2 linked regions of the Homo sapiens genome follow. Each later gene encodes a partner of the first gene's protein in a complex. Each region holds a gene or a part of one and is shown in the gene's direction. Other genes may lie near its edges.

Region 1 (3,913 bases):
GAGATGGGGTTTCACCACATTGGCTGGTCTCAAACTCCTGACCTCAGATGATCCACCCACCTCAGCCTCCCAAAGTGCTGGGATTACAGGCATGAGCCACCGTGCCTGGCTTTTTTTTTTTTTTTTTTTTTTTGAGACGGGGTTTCTCTCTGTCACCCAGGCTGGTAGCCACCCCCTCCTCAAGCGATCCTCCAGCCTTGCCTCCTGTGTAGCTGGGACTACAAGCGTGTACCACCATGCCCGGCTAATTTTTGTATGTTTTTGTAGGGACAGGGTTTTGCCATGTTGGCCAGGCTGGTCTCAAACTCCTGGGCTCAACTGATCCACCCACCTCAGCCTCCCAAATTGCTAGGATTGCAGGCATGACCCACTGCGCCCAGCCAAGATCCCTTTACATTTGTTAAAAATTATCAAGGACCAGCTGGGCATGGTGGCTCACACTTATAATCCTAGCACTTTGGGAGGCCGAGGCGGGTGGATCAGTTGAGCCCAGGAGTTCGAGACCAGCCTGGCCAACATGGAGAAACCCTGTCTCTACTAAAAATACAAAAAATGCACTGGGCATGGTGGCACACACCTGTAATCCCAGCTACTTGGAGGCTGAGGCAGGAGAATCGCTTGAACCTGGGAGGTGGAGGTTGCAGTGAGCCGAGATCTTGCCACAGTACTCCAGCCTGGGTGACAGAGTGAGACTCTGTCTCAAAAAAAAAAAAAAAGTCAAGGACCCACACACCTTTTTTTAGTTACGTAGGTTATATCTATTGTTATTTACAATATGAAACTTTTTTTTTTTTAATTTTTGGAGAGAAGTCTGGCGCTTGTCCCCCAGGCTTGAGTGCAATGGCTCAATCTTGGCTCACTGCGACCTCTGCCTCCCGGGTTCAAATGATTCTCCGGCCTCGCCTCCCGTGTAGCTGAGACTACAAGTGTGTACCACCATGCCCGGCTAATTTTTGTATTTTTTAGTACAGATGGGGTTTCACCATGTTGGCCAGGCTGCTCTTGAACTTCTGACTTCAGGTGATCCACCCGCCTCGGCTTCCCAAAGTGCTGGGGTTACAGGCATGAGCCACCACACCCGGCCTACAATATGAAACTTTAAAATGTATTAATTAATTTTTAAATAGTAAACCCACTACATGTTAAGATAAATTACATGTTTTTCTTAAGAATAAGTTTATTTTCTACAATAAAAACGTTTTAGTGAGGCCAGGCATGATGGCTCTCACCTATAATCCCAACACTTTGGAAGGCCAATGCAGGAGGATCACCAGGAGTTTGGAACCAGCCCTGGTGACATAGTGAGACTCTGTACAAAAAAGAAATTTATTTATTTATTTATTTATTTTTTGAGACGGAGTCGTGCTCTGTCACCCAGGCTGGAGTGCAGTGGTGTGATCTCAGCTCACTGCAAGGTCCGCCTCCCAGGTTCACGCCATTCTCCTGCCTCAGCCTCCCGAGTAGCTGGGACTACAGGCGTCCGCCACCACGCCTGGCTAATTTTTTTGTATTTTTAGTAGAGACAGGGTTTTAACCATGTTAGCCAGGATGGGCTCAACCTCCTGACCTTGTGGTCCACCTGCCTCGGCCTTCCAAAGTGCTGGGATTACAGGTGTGAGCTGCTGTGCCCTGCCATCTGTACAAAAAATTTTAAAATCAGCTGGGCATGGTGGTGTGCACCTATAGTTCCAGCCACTCAAGAGGCTGAGATGGGAGATTTTCTTGAGCCCAGGAAATTGAGGCTGCGGTGTACCGTGATCACGCCACTGCACTCCAGCCTGGGCAACAGGGTGAGACCCTGTCTTTAAAAAAAGCAAAACGAAAAACAACCTTTTAGTGAGAAGAGTGGCATTGTTTTCATTTTTGCAAGTCTCTTTAATGTCTGGCTTAATAGAAGACAGTTGGATTCTCATCTGGTTCTGCATTCAGTCTGTCAAATATGTTGTTTTGGTTTAAGTTCATGAGGAAAACTCTTTTTTTTTTTTTTTTCAGGCTTTAATCAATTTAATAATCAATATAATATTACATGCATAGTTCTTCAAAAATGTCAAGGAAAACTCTTTCCCATGGATTTTAACTGCTTGAATTCAGAGCATAGAAAACAGAAGAAAACTTGAGTGCAATATTAATAAAGACCCTTTAAAAAAGATGTTATATAAAAAGAAAAATCGCAAGCCAGTGAAAAATACATGCAAAATTCTAAATAACATTTTAGCAAACAAAATCTATGCTTAAAAGCATAACACACAAAAAAGTGAGATTTTTCCCTAGTATGTAACAGTAATCAGACATTTTATCAAGACATTTACAAATAAGCCTAAAAATAGATGTCTGAGTGCTATTTATGAAATTCAAGATCTATTCCTCCCATCCAAGCACTAACCAGGCCAACCCTGCTTAGCTTCCGAGATCAGACAAGATCGGGCGTGTTCAGGGTGGTATGGCCAGAGGAAAACTCTTCACACAGGTATGTAGCTGGAAAAAGGAGGGAAATTTTAGTAGTCTTTTCAGCCACTTGTGGCTATTCTTTGATCCTACCCCCAGTTTAAACAAGTGGTGGTTTCTTAAAGGTTAATTGCAGTGTGGAATCTGAAATCATATCAGTGAATTCTTGATACTATTTCGTTAAAATCCATTAGTCTACCTTGCACTCATACTCATGCATGATTTTTTAGCGTATTTGGAAAATACTGGTTCACTGAGTTACACAGATATTCCAAGTGTCACATTTTCATGTACACATCATCACTCATCATATTGCATCTGGAAAAATCTTCTTTTCACTCGTGACTGAAAAGGATGAAAATGTCATAGTAGTATAATAAATGTACTGTGACCTCTCAGATCCTCTAGAGGGAACCCATAGGAGTCTCTGGAACACTCTTGTAGAACCGCCAGATAGAACTCCTAAATACCCTTTACCCCAGATTCAGGCTCACCGATTTTTTATCTTTTGCCCCATTTGCTTTATCATTCTTTGTGTGCATGTGTGTGGGCACTCCCACGCACTCTGAGTCATTTGAGAGTAAATTGTAGATACACCCCTTCACCTTGTTTCAGTATGTCTTTACTTCAAACCATGGTCCTGTTGTTCCCTGGGGACATGTGGCAGGGTTGTCACAGTGAGGGGTAGGGGTACTCCCTGCATCAAGAGGCCAGAGATGCTGCTAAAAATCCTACGATATACAGAACAGCCCTCCAAACAGAAACTTTCTCAGCCCAAAATGTTAGTCATACCGAGGTTGAAAAACCCTGCCTTAAGAGTATTCTCTAACATGACCACAGTACAGTTTTCAAAATCAAGAAACTTAATACTGATTCAGTATCTAATGCACAGTTTATATTCACATTTTAGATATTATCCCAATAACCTTTGAACTATACCCCACCCAAACCACCCCCCGACCTGGGCACAGGTTCACATGTTGTACTGTCATGAGTTTTGTTTGTTTGCTTGTTTGCTTGCTTGTTTTAAGACCAGGTTCGCAGGCCAGCCACAGTGGCTCACACCTGTAATCCCAGCACTCTGGGAGGCCAAGGTGGGTGAATCACATGGGGTCAGGAGTTCGAGATCAGCCTGGCCAACATGGCAAAACCCTGTCTCTGCTAAAAATACAAAAAATTTAGCTGGACATAGTGGCAGGCACCTGTGATCCCAGCTACTCAGGAGGCTGAGGCAGGAGAATCGCTTGAACCCAGGAGGTGGAGGTTGCATGAGCTGAGATCGTGCCATTGCACTCCAGCCTGGGTGACAAAGCAAGACTCCGTCTCAAAAAAAAAGGACGGGTTCTCATTCTGTCACCCAGGCTGGGGTACCGTGGCACCATCTCGGCTCACTGCAACCTCCGCCTCCTGGGCTCAAGGCCATCCTCCCACCTTAGCCTCCCAAGTATCTGAGACTACAGGCACGTGC
Region 2 (3,913 bases), on another chromosome or scaffold:
CCGGGTGTGGTGGCGGGCACCTGTAGTCCCAGTTACTCGGGAGGCTGAGGCAGGAGAATGGCATGAACCTGGGAGGCAGAGCTTGCAGTGAGCCGAGATTGCGCCACTGCACTCCAGCCTGGGCGACAGAGCGAGACTCTGTCTCAAAAAAAAAAAAAAAAAAAAAAGTGACCCTCATAAAAAAATTAGCTGGGCACGATGGTGCACACTAGTCGGAATGCTGGGGTGGGAGGATGACCTGAGTCCGGGAGTCAGAGGTTGCAGTGGGCCGAGATCGCGTCACAGCACTCCAGCCTGGCGACAGAGTGAGACCCTATCAAAAAATAGCAGCAGGCCAGGCGCGGTGGCTCATGCCTGTAATCCCAGCACTTTGGGAGGCTGAGGCGGGCGGATCACGAGGTCAGGAGATCGAGACTACCCTGGCTAACACGGTGAAACCCCGTCTCTACTAAAAATACAAAATATTAGCCGGGCGTGGTGGCCGGCGCCTGTAGTCCCAGTTACTGGGGAGGCTGAGGCAGAAGAATGGCGTGAACCTGGGAGGCGGAGGTTGCAGTGAGCCGAGATCGTGCCACTGCACTCCAGCCTGGGAGACAGCGCAAGACTCTAGCTCAAACAAACAAACAAACAAAACAGCAACAACAACAACAAAACCATCCTCCCCTCCCGAGGGGACAGAACAGAAACGAATGGGCGAGTGCCGGGCCAAGCAGTGGGTCTCCAGCAGGTGGCATTAAAATAGGAATTTTGGCTGGGGACGGTGGCTCACACCTGTAATCTCAGCACTTTGGAAAGCCCAGGCGGGCGGTCACCTGAGGGCAGAACCAGCCTCGCCAACATGGTGAAATGCCATCTCTACTAAAAATAAAAAATTAGCCAGGCCTGGTGGTGGGTGTCTGTAATCCCAGCAACTCGGGAGGCTGAGGCAGGAGAATCGCTTGAACCAGGGGGGCAGAGGTTGCAATGAGTCAAGATTGCACCACCGCACTCCAGCCTGCGTAACAAGAGCGTGTAACTCTTGTCTCAAAAATAAATTAAATAAATAAATAATAAAAATAAAAAAGAATCTTCATTCATGGGAAGTCGAGAACACATGAAAACAAGTAAAGGCCGAAGCGCAGTGGCTCACGCCTGTAATCCCAGCACTTTGGGAGGCTGAGGCGGGCGGATAACCTGAGGTCGGAAGTTCGAGACCAGCCTGACCAACAGGGAGAAACCCCGCCTCTACTAAAAATACAAAATTAGCCGGGCATGGCGGTGCATGCCAGTAGTCCCAGCTACTCGGGAGGCTGAGGCAGGAGAATCGCTTGAACCCGGAATGTGGAGGTTGTGGTGAGCTGAGATCGGGCAATTGCACTCCAGCCTGGGCAACAAGAGCGAAACCCTGTATCAAAAAAAAAAAAAAGAAAAAAAAAGGAAGAAAAGGCCTAAAGGCGCCGGGCGCGGTGGGTCACGCCTGTAATCCCAGCACTTTGGGAGGCCGAGGCGGGCGAATCACGAGGTCAGGAGATCGAGACCAGGTGAAACCCCGTCTCTACTAAAAATACAAAAAAATTAGCCGGGCGTGGTGGTGGGCGCCTGTAGTCCCAGCTACTCGGGAGGCTGAGGCAGGAGAACAGCGTGAACCCGGAAAGCGGAGCTGGCAGTGAGCTGAGATCGCGCCACTGCACTCCAGCCTGGGTGACAGAGCGAGACTCCGTCTCAAAAAAAAAAAAAAAAAAAAAAAGAAAGAAAGGGCCTAAAGGCTCCTCGCGGCTTCCGTATTACGGAACACACGCACAAAAATGGCGGCGACCTGGTTTACAGGGGCTAAAAATGGTCACGTGATAAACCAACTTCCGGTCTTTCGCCCAAAGCACGTTCCCTACTTCCTGTGCTCTTGCGGAGACGCGCGCGTCGGGGTTTAACGCGTTTCTGGGCCGCCGTAAGCCCGGCCTAGGGGCAGCTTTGACTCGAGAGCCGGCTATAGGCGCATGGAAGGTTCCCTGGAACGGGAGGCGCCAGCGGGGGCGCTGGCCGCCGTGCTAAAGCACAGCTCGACGTTGCCGCCCGAAAGCACCCAGGTCCGGGGCTACGACTTCAACCGCGGTGTGAATTACCGCGCACTGCTGGAGGCCTTCGGCACCACCGGCTTCCAAGCAACCAACTTCGGGCGCGCTGTACAGCAAGTCAATGCCATGGTGAGGACCGGGCGGAATTTCTAGGGACGCGGAGGGGCGTGGCTTGTAGAACCAACGCGGTACTAGACGGGGGCAGCGTTTCCAGTGGAGGGGATATGTCTTTTATTTGAGTTGCCCAATAGTTGGAGGAAGGCGGGACCTATTCTGGGCGGGAGTTTCTGTCCTGGGAAGGGGATTTTGCACTCTGGTAGTTACATGCTGGTACGGTAACCTGAGGAGGCGAGGACTGATTCTTGGTGTGGGGGCGGGTTCTAGGTACATTTAAAGCTTTCTGGAATGGGCGGAGCCTGGGGCAAGACAAATTAAGGGAGGATATGGGAGGAGGAGCCTAAGTCTGGGCGGTTCTTGAATTTAGATTTGCTTTTCCCAGCGGGGAAGGGACCGGATCTGAAAGGAGATGCTCTCTGATTCCTAAAAGGGTGGGGGCTGGCTGGGCGCGGTGGCGCATGCCTATAATCCCAGCATTTTGGGAAGCCGAGGCGGGTGGATCAAGAGAAGAGGAGTTCGAGACAAGCCTGGCCAACATGGTGAAACCCTGTCTCTACTAAAATGCAAAAAATTAGCCGGGCATGGTGTTGCGCGCCTGTAGTCCCAGCTACTCGGGAGGCTGAGGCAGGAGAATCGCTTGAACCCGCGAGGTGGAGGTTGCAGTGAGCTGAGATTGCGCCACTGCACTCCAGCCTGGTGACAGAGCGATACTCTGTCTCAAAAAAAAAAAAAAAAAAAGGCCGGGCACGGTGGCTCATGCCTGTAATCTCAGCATTTTGGGAGGCCGAGGCGGGCGGATCACCTGAGGTCGGGAGTTCGAGACCAGCCTGACCAACATGGAGAAACCCCGTCTCTACTAAAATGCAAAAAATTAGCCGGGCATGGTGGTGCGCGCCTGTAGTCCCAGCTACTCGGGAGGCTGAGGCAGGAGAATCGCTTGAACCCGGGAGGTGGAGCTTGCAGTGAGCCGAGATCGCGCCATTGCACTCTAGCCTGGGTAACAAGAGTGAAACTCCGTCCAAAAAAAAAAAAAAAAGGGTGGGGGCAAATCCTGAACGTGTGTCTTGAGATCTGGTCTGGGAAGGGGCAGAGTTTACACAGGAGATGTTCCTTGGTCCCCTGTAGAACTGGTCCTGTATCCCTGAATGTGCAGGGCCTGGGGTGAAATCTGTTTCTGGAGCCCACCTGGAGTCCTGAGTCTGGGATTTAAGGCCAGTGCTTAACTTGACTTGGCCCTTACTCACAGATCGAGAAGAAGCTGGAACCACTGTCACAGGATGAAGACCAGCACGCGGACCTGACCCAGAGCCGCCGCCCACTTACCAGCTGCACCATTTTCCTGGGATATACATCCAACCTCATCAGTTCAGGCATCCGTGAGACCATTCGCTACCTTGTGCAGCACAACATGGTGGGGACCTGGTGAGGCCGTGGCCTTGGCCTCTGGGTCAATGGGCAATGCAGTTATTGATCGTTTAAGTGAGATGGGCAGATAGGGGTCTGTTATAAGCAGAGGAATAGAATCAAGTTTTGTTTTGTAGCAGAGCTCCCTCATAAGAGTCACTGGACAAGGATGAGGTTAGAAGTTCTGCCCAGAATGAGGGCAGGGGCTTCCTTCTTGGGCCAAATTCACTGCCTTGTGGCTGCAGGTGGACGTATTGGTGACCACAGCTGGCGGCGTGGAGGAAGACCTCATCAAGTGCCTGGCGCCCACATACTTGGGCGAGTTTAGCCTCAGGGGGAAG

What was found.
Region 2: the proteins of MAPK1 (region 1) and DHPS are in contact, whole or in part, in a cryo-EM structure (PDB 8PVU), measured with the Homo sapiens proteins. Residues at the interface, in NP_002736.3 of Homo sapiens: Tyr113, Tyr187, Ala189, Thr190, Arg191, Trp192, Arg225, Lys231, His232, Tyr233, Leu234, His239, Lys259; in NP_001921.1 of Homo sapiens: Arg159, Glu160, Asn161, Asn164, Asn173, Glu174, Tyr176, Cys177, Glu180, Asp181, Met184, Asp188, Asp243, Phe247, Tyr250.

Annotation. Positions count from the first base shown.
Region 1 is NC_000022.11:21,790,973-21,794,885, reverse strand, and holds part of MAPK1 (mitogen-activated protein kinase 1), read left to right. Parts: intron 1-3,913. UniProt on the Homo sapiens protein: Serine/threonine kinase which acts as an essential component of the MAP kinase signal transduction pathway. MAPK1/ERK2 and MAPK3/ERK1 are the 2 MAPKs which play an important role in the MAPK/ERK cascade.
Region 2 is NC_000019.10:12,679,827-12,683,739, reverse strand, and holds the start of DHPS (deoxyhypusine synthase), read left to right. Parts: upstream 1-1,859; 5' UTR 1,860-1,973; coding exon 1,974-2,180; intron 2,181-2,369; exon of another isoform or gene 2,370-2,626; coding exon of another isoform or gene 2,627-2,707; intron 2,708-3,414; coding exon 3,415-3,579; intron 3,580-3,817; coding exon 3,818-3,913. UniProt on the Homo sapiens protein: Catalyzes the NAD-dependent oxidative cleavage of spermidine and the subsequent transfer of the butylamine moiety of spermidine to the epsilon-amino group of a critical lysine residue of the eIF-5A precursor protein to form the intermediate deoxyhypusine residue.